Linked DNA regions of Homo sapiens. The protein of the gene in region 1 interacts with the protein of each later gene in a biochemical or structural test. Each region holds a gene or a part of one and is shown on either strand. Other genes may lie near its edges. The genes, in order: CDH2 and PTPRG.

Region 1 (4,028 bases):
TCTACAGGTTGCTTCATAATCTACAAACCTGCTGGGTCTCCACTGTGGTAGCATAGCTCTCCATGCCCTATAGGATGAAGTTAGAGCTTTTTAATAGTGCATTCCAGACCCTCTGTGACCTTGGCCCCAAAACCCTCCTTAACCTAACCCCCCAGAATTACTTGCCTTTCACATACAAATGATGCCCAACCACTCATTGAACCACACACAGTCCTTGTGCAAATAGGAAGTTTTCTATTCTTCTGTTCCCGTTTCCTCTGCCTAAATATTGTTCTCCTACATAACAGGCTAATCCTTACCCTCTGAGAGCCAGTTCTCAATCCCTTCTCTGATCACCCACAGTAGTCTCTGCATACCTCTATATAGACTGTGTTACACAGAAAGTATATCTGGATTCCCATTCTCAACATCCAGTGGGGCAGATATTCCTTGTCTCATTACCCTGAACATGAATTGTAAAGAAATGTTTAAGTTACTATACTTTACCTGAGTTCCACACCAGTCTTCTCCAAGGGGCACCCAGCACTCAAGGCAGGCAGATCAGTTGAGCCTAGGAGTTTGAGACCAGCCTGGGCCACATGGCGAAACCCTGTCTCTACTAAAAATACAAAAAATTAGCCAGGCGTGGTGGTGCATGCCTGTAATCCCAGCTATTCAGGAGGCTAAGGTAAGAGGATCACCTGTCACCTGAGTCTGGGTGGTCAAGGCTGCAGTGAGCCATAATCGTGCCACTGCAGTCCAGCCTGTGTGACAGAATGAGACCCTGTCTCAAGAACAAACAAGCAAAAAATACTTCCACTCCTTCCTTGTCCACTTGAAGTCCGGCTTTCCACCTGCTTCCCCCGCTTGACCTGTGCACATGCTGCATGTGTGCAGTACTCTTACCATCTTAGAGGGCACTCACGTAGTGGATTGGTTAACGGTACAGATTCTTGACCATACCTGAGTTCAAGTCTATTATCTGCCTCTTATGGCTGGGTGTCCATGGCAAGCTCCTTTACCTTCCTAAGCCCATTTCCTCATCTGTAAAATGGGGTTTCAAAACCCCACCTGCCTCATAGGATTATTGTGAGGACTAACTGAAATAATGCATAGTGCATAGCACTGTGCTGGGCACATAGTGCTCAAACTCAATAAAAGTTGTTTTTTGTTTTTAAATCAAGGCCCTTGGAACAGTGCCAGCATGTAATATGTATACAAAAGAAAGACCACATTTATAAGGTAGATGGTACTTTTAGTCCCATTTCACAGATGAGGGAAGTGGGGCTTAGCAGTTAAGAATTTGAACAGAGTTGGCCAGGAGTGGTGGCTCACACCTGTAATCCCAGCACTTTGGGAGGCCAAGGTGGGCGGATCACGAGGTCAGGAGATGGAGACCATCCTGGCTAACACGGTGAAACCCCATCCCTACTAAAAATACAAAAAATTAGCCAGGCGTGGTTGCGGGCGCCTGTAGTCCCAGCTACTCGGGAGGCTGAGGCAGGAGAATGGCGTGAACCCGGGAGGCAGAGCTTGCAGTGAGCCGAGATTGTGCCACTGCACTCCAGCCTGGGCGACAGAGTGAGACTCAGTCTCAAAAAAAAAAAGAATTTGAACAGAGTCACAAATCTATACTTCCCTCCTAAGTTTCGGTGACATTGTTATTCAACTCTCTGTCCCCAACCCAATTTATCTAGAGGCAAATCTGTCATCTCCTGAAACCCGTGATTTATGATGAATTTCCTATTTCACGTGACCAGGACCTTCTCCTCAGTCTCCCAAGGTCATCGTTTAATTGCCTTTCCCATGCCCTGCTGTCCCTCTACCTGCAATCTGTTTAGTCATCAAGTTCTTCTCTTTTTACTCAAAGTAATGACATTAAAAGTAATGGCAAAAACTGCAGTTACTTTTGCACCAACCTGATAGTTGGTATGCACTATTGAAGGTTCTTCATATTACTTCTTCCTACCATTTCTAGACTTGCACTCATGCATTTGGTGGCTCTATATGGTCCTGTGATCCTTTACTCTCTGCCTCCATCACTTAGTGAAAGCAAGGCTGTATCTCGTTTTGGTCACTGTTTTACCCAAGTAAATACTCCATTGCCTGGCATTTTGAAGACATTTCATTAAATGTCTGCTGTATGAATGACTGAATGTTCTCACCTCCTCATTCACTGATGTCACTCAGTGTTTCAAAATTGTGCTGCACGTGCATAAGATTTTAATTGGTAAATGCTGAGAAGCCTCTAGGACAGCAAGCGGACACAGCCTTTCACGTGCTACTTCATCAAGTAGAGACTGCCAGAATCCAAGAATTTCATCATGTTTATTTTTTACTGTCATATTTATGATAACTGATGCTAGCTTTCCATTTATGGGACTTTTACAATAAATTAAGCTTTAAAAAGGGAAATTAATGTCAATATAAATAGGAAGTGACTCATAGTATGAGGAAATGTTAGAATTGGGACTACTGTGCATGAATCACTGTGGTTTTGGGAAAAGGTGAGCTAGTTTATGCTCCCAGTATGGGTTTTAAGAAGTAAATTATAGCTATCCATGTGAATAGAAGATGGCTTTTTCTTTACCTGAGATAAGATCATGCAAAACCCAAGGTTTCTTATGCATTCACCCATCCATCCACCAAGTCAGAAGCATTTGTGGAATTCTTACTCTGAGTCAGGCACTGTGCCATATATGCCAGTGGCACAAGCATCAACAAAGCAAGGGCCCTTGGGACACGTGTGTGTGTGTCTGTGTCTCTGTATGCACACACATGCACAGTGAGGCAGATACAGACATACGACTGATAACAGCCATATAAACTATAAACAGTGATGGGGTGTGTTGTAAGGGCTCTGTCCTGAGGACACAAACAGCTCTTCCTCAAGAACTTTCAGAAGTCGTCTCCAAAGTGACTTGTAAGCTGCATGTTAGCCAGGCTTGGAATGAAGGGAATGGTATTCTAGGCAAGGGTTTCTCAGCCAGGACACTATGACATTTTTACTTGGTTATGAGGCCTGTCTTGTGCATCATAGGCTGTTTAGCAGCATCCTTGGCCTCTACCCATTAGATGTCGGTACTGAGTTTGGTTGTCACAACTAAGGAGTGCTTAGTTGTAACAACCCAAAATGTTCACTCTGTGTAACATCCACTTGTCTAGGCAGAGGAGAATGCCAAATGGAATGACACAGGATCATGACAGGGCATTTGAAGATAAATGCAAAACAGCTCCAGGTGTGGGGTAAGCGAATGGGAGGAATCACTTTTGTAAAATAGGCGAGTTTCGGAGAGGGAAGGATTGACAGCAAGCAGATGATTTTGGATTTTATTCCATATAGAGCAGGAAGGGAGGAGAAGTTTTCAAGCAGAATCCCCTTGATCAGCTGAGGTACTATGAGAGTGGGAAGTCGAACACTTAACGGAATCTAAATGTCAGTCATTCACAGCCAGATGCCCAATGACCAAATTAGGCAAGAAGCTCTAAGCAGTTCAGTTGTCTAAAACACAGGCTATCAAGCCTTCCTTACTAAATATAAGAATGTTTTAGCAATCTGGCATTTGAAAATGGAGATGACATTATTTACTATTTACCAAGTGGAATTTTTTTTTTATTTGAAGAGATATTGTACTTTGGAAATAACAAGTGTCCTTTTGTAATTTAAAATTTCCAGACTAGCTTGCAGCAATAAGAAATTTCAAGTATTAGCTACTAATTCCAATATTGCAGATCAATGGAAAATTATTGGATGTATTATGCTTACATAATTCTAAAGATTTTTGTAGACTAGACATTAGGAAATAACTATACTTTCATGTAATACCTATGTGAGTTAACTTCTTAAGAAATAAGCTTCCTTTTTTTCTCTCTTTTTGAGAATGTTCATCTGTTTCTGCAAATAGCAGCTAACAAAACTGACATTTCAAAAGTCATAAAAGTTTTTATTTTCATGGTTTTCAGCTGGGAGGCTGAACTGAATGTCCTGCGAAATTCTCTCACTAACCATGAAAGCATTAAGCTGAAGTGACACTTCTAATTGGGGAAGG
Region 2 (3,500 bases), on another chromosome or scaffold:
AGTGCACAGAATGTTGCCCTAGTCCTGGATATAGTTTGTTTCCAAGTAAGATGGTTGCTCCCATTTCTCAGACTGGCAAATGAACTTTTTTTTTTTTTTTTTTTTGAGGCAGGGTCTCACTATGTCGCCCAGGCTGGAGAGCAGTGGCACCATCACAGCTCATTGCAGCCCCAAAGTCCTGTCCTCCACCTCTGGAGTAGCTGGAACTACAGGCGCATACCACCAAGTACAGCTAATTTTTGTATTTTTTGTAGAGATGAGGTCTCACCATGTTGCACATGGCTGGTCTTGAACTCCTGGGCTCAAGCAATCTGCCCACCTGGGTCTCCCAAAGTGCTGAGATGACAGGCATGAGCCACCATGCCCAGCCTACATTTGATCTTTTAATTTTTTTTTTTTTTTTTTGAGACAGGGTCTCACTGTGTCACTCAAGCTGGAGTGCAGTGGCATGATCACAGTACACTGCGGCCTCAACCTCGTGGGCTCAAGCAATCCTCCCATCTTGGCCTCCCAAGTAGTGGGGACAAAAGAGTGCACCCAGCTAATTTTTCTTTTATTATCTGTAGAGGCAGGGTCTCCCTATGTTGCCCTGGCTGGTCTCGAACTTCTGGGCTCAAGTGACCCTCCCGCCTCCCAAAGCACTGTGATTATAGGAGTGAGCCACAGTGCCCAGTTTTATCTTTTAATCATTTGCACAGGCAACCTCATTCTGGGACAAATTCAGTGACTATTGCCAAATCCCACAAGAAGCCCTCACAGAGCAGGCTCTTCTCAGCCCCTCCTGAGTCCCTCCTGAGCCACTCCCTCTACCTCGTCAGTGGCTGCTTAACCTAGATCAAGCTCAGGTGGAAAATTAAAGGTGGGGAGCAGTGTACTCCTTGGCTTCTATAATATTAATAAAACAGCCCTTTTATTCTCTAAACAGGATACAGCCGAAAACAGTTTCAGTGACCACCACCCAACATCTAACAGAGGTCAACTCTGAACCAAAGCAAACCAAGGGCTAATTTCTGGGCACCAAGTGCTTTAGAGGGAACTTCAGATGCCCTAAATTTTTCCCATAAGCTCCGGGTTATGGAATGTGACCACATGAAATGTAACCCAGGATGACAGTATTAACTACAATTGTTTAAATCTCTTAATTCAGAATGTACGCATATTGCAATCTTCAACCTGCCTAGAAATGGCATTTCATTGTCCCACATGCTGAATGGAAATCAAGATTTAAAAAGAACAAACAACGTGTCACTGTAAAAGCAAAGTGTTAAAGCAACAGCCCAGTAGCAATGTAATCCCAGCACTCTGGGAGGCCGAGGTGGGCAGAGCACCTGAGGTCAGGAGTTCAAGACCACCCTGGCCAACATGGCGGCACTCCGTCTCCACAAAATTACAAAAATTAGCTAGGCATAGTGGCACGTGCCTGTAGACTCAGCTACTCAGGAGGCTGAGGCAGGAGAATCGCTTGAACCTGGGAAGTAGAGGTTGCAATGAGCTAGGATCTCACTACTGCACTCCAGCCTGGGTGACAGAGTGAGACTCCATCTCAAAAAAAGAAAAGAAGTCTCCAGGAAAAGGCAGGGAGACAAGGGAGTAGGAGAGGCTCCTGAGTAACTACTCTAGGGCATTTTAAGTGATCTCACGTGAATGCCAAGGAAGTTACTTTCAATCAGCACACAGGTGTATAACTGATTCTACTCTGTTAACTTGGGAGCTGTTTAGAATAGAAAGGCAAATCTGAAAGGGCTGTTTGTTTTGCTGCATTAAATCATCAGCATTCGCTGGATCGCTTCATGTAAACAACAACATAATCTTTTATTCAGTGAAAACAGGTCCATAATTAATGGGAGATACTCAAAGCTTCACTATGGAATAGTCACTTTTCCCACATCAGCCAACCCTTCCTATGACCTTTCTTCTTTCAGCAACAACAGCAACTTCCCCTATTTCCAAAAGGCCCTGTTTATGCCTATCTTTATTAGTGTTTTAAGTCCATCAACCCTCAAATGTGAACACTGTTTAGAAGGAAACATCAAAGATTTTATTCCATAACTGTGTCAAAGGAACCCAGTTTAGAGACTGGGTAAAGATTCTTCATTTTCAAACATGATACATGAGGGAGAGGGAAAAAAAACCTGTACAATCTCACACCCTGTAAAGAGAAAGATTGCTGATTTCCAAATATTACTTTTGCCTTTTCCTAAGGCCATAACGGATGCCCATCAGAACTAAAGCCCGCACATGCAAATAAAATAAGAGACAGCTTAGAGGGAGATTCATGATTCACCCGACATTAATCATGGAGCCTCCAATTCTGACACATCCAAGGTACACAGCTGAGCTTATCCATCTGAACTGTTTCCAATGGCAGCATCCTAGATATAATGTAATTACAATACAAAACATATCAAAACCAGAGTTTCACTCTGAGGGCCGAAAGACAAAAATCAATTAAAAAAAAAATCTGCTGAGCTTGAGAATGTAAACTAGATAAAAGGTTAACACTCTGAAGTAACATATTTTATACTGTGTCAGAGGCAATTAAATTCCCAGTGATTGGAGATATGTATCAGAGTTTGAATGAACTATGTGTAGGATTTGCTTTAAAATAATAAGGTGTTGGGGAGGAAGAGATGAGAGAAGATTGAGTTGTGAGTGTTGAAGTTGGGTGGGGGATCCATTATATTTTGCTATTTTTGTAAACGTTTCTACAGTGCTTTATAAAGATGTATATAGCAATGTAATATGCCTAATATCATGTTTGGTAACACTCTTAGCTTTGCACTTGGAAAGCATCACTTGAAGCATTATTAACCCTGAATGGATCCCAAACCTGCCACACTGCTGTTCAAAGACTAAAATCCACTGTTTCCAATCCACTGGGAAAAAGCTCATGCCAGGGCTGTGTTTCCAAAACCCTGCCCAAACTACAGCTAACCCATATCCTGAACAGGAGCTGAGAACTCAAATGCAACTGAAGAGTTATGCTGAGTTATGATTCTGAGAGGAAACACAAAAATACTAAATAAAAAGGGATTTTGGCTAAGACCTCACAAGGACGACCCTACTCCAAAACAGAAGCATTTTTATCCCTCATGTCAAACAGATAAGCGCTTTCGAGGTCATAGCAGGCAAGAAGTAGGGGTCCCAAGGCTAACTCCAGCCCCCAGCGGGTTTCGAGAAAGCCAGGAGCAGCATCGCCAGGCCGAGGCCGCCGCCTCGCGCCAAGGCGCGTCTGCAGCCCCAGAGCCTGGGAACCCGGGCACGCGCGCCCCATCCCTGAGGCGTGGAGGTGGCCGAGGCCGACCAGTGTGGAGGTGGCAGGAGCCCCACCAGTGGCTCGGGGGCGCCCCCTGAGGTCCAGCGGCGTCGCGGCAACCTCGGAAAACGAAAAGCCAGCGTCTCCCAGAGCTCTGATATTTTAACTTTACCTTGCTCCAAAGCCTGCTGCTCCCTCTCGGGCTGCACTTTTCCAAACCAAACCGCCCTCTTCCCTGCGCCTC

Evidence for each region.
Region 2: of the proteins of CDH2 (region 1) and PTPRG, one has a biochemical effect on the other in vitro, tested with the Homo sapiens proteins (one large-scale study listed by IntAct).

Annotation. Positions count from the first base shown.
Region 1 is NC_000018.10:27,995,372-27,999,399, reverse strand, and holds part of CDH2 (cadherin-2 isoform 1 preproprotein), read left to right. Parts: intron 1-4,028. UniProt on the Homo sapiens protein: Calcium-dependent cell adhesion protein; preferentially mediates homotypic cell-cell adhesion by dimerization with a CDH2 chain from another cell. Cadherins may thus contribute to the sorting of heterogeneous cell types.
Region 2 is NC_000003.12:61,564,571-61,568,070, reverse strand, and holds part of PTPRG (receptor-type tyrosine-protein phosphatase gamma isoform 1 precursor), read right to left. Parts: intron 1-3,500.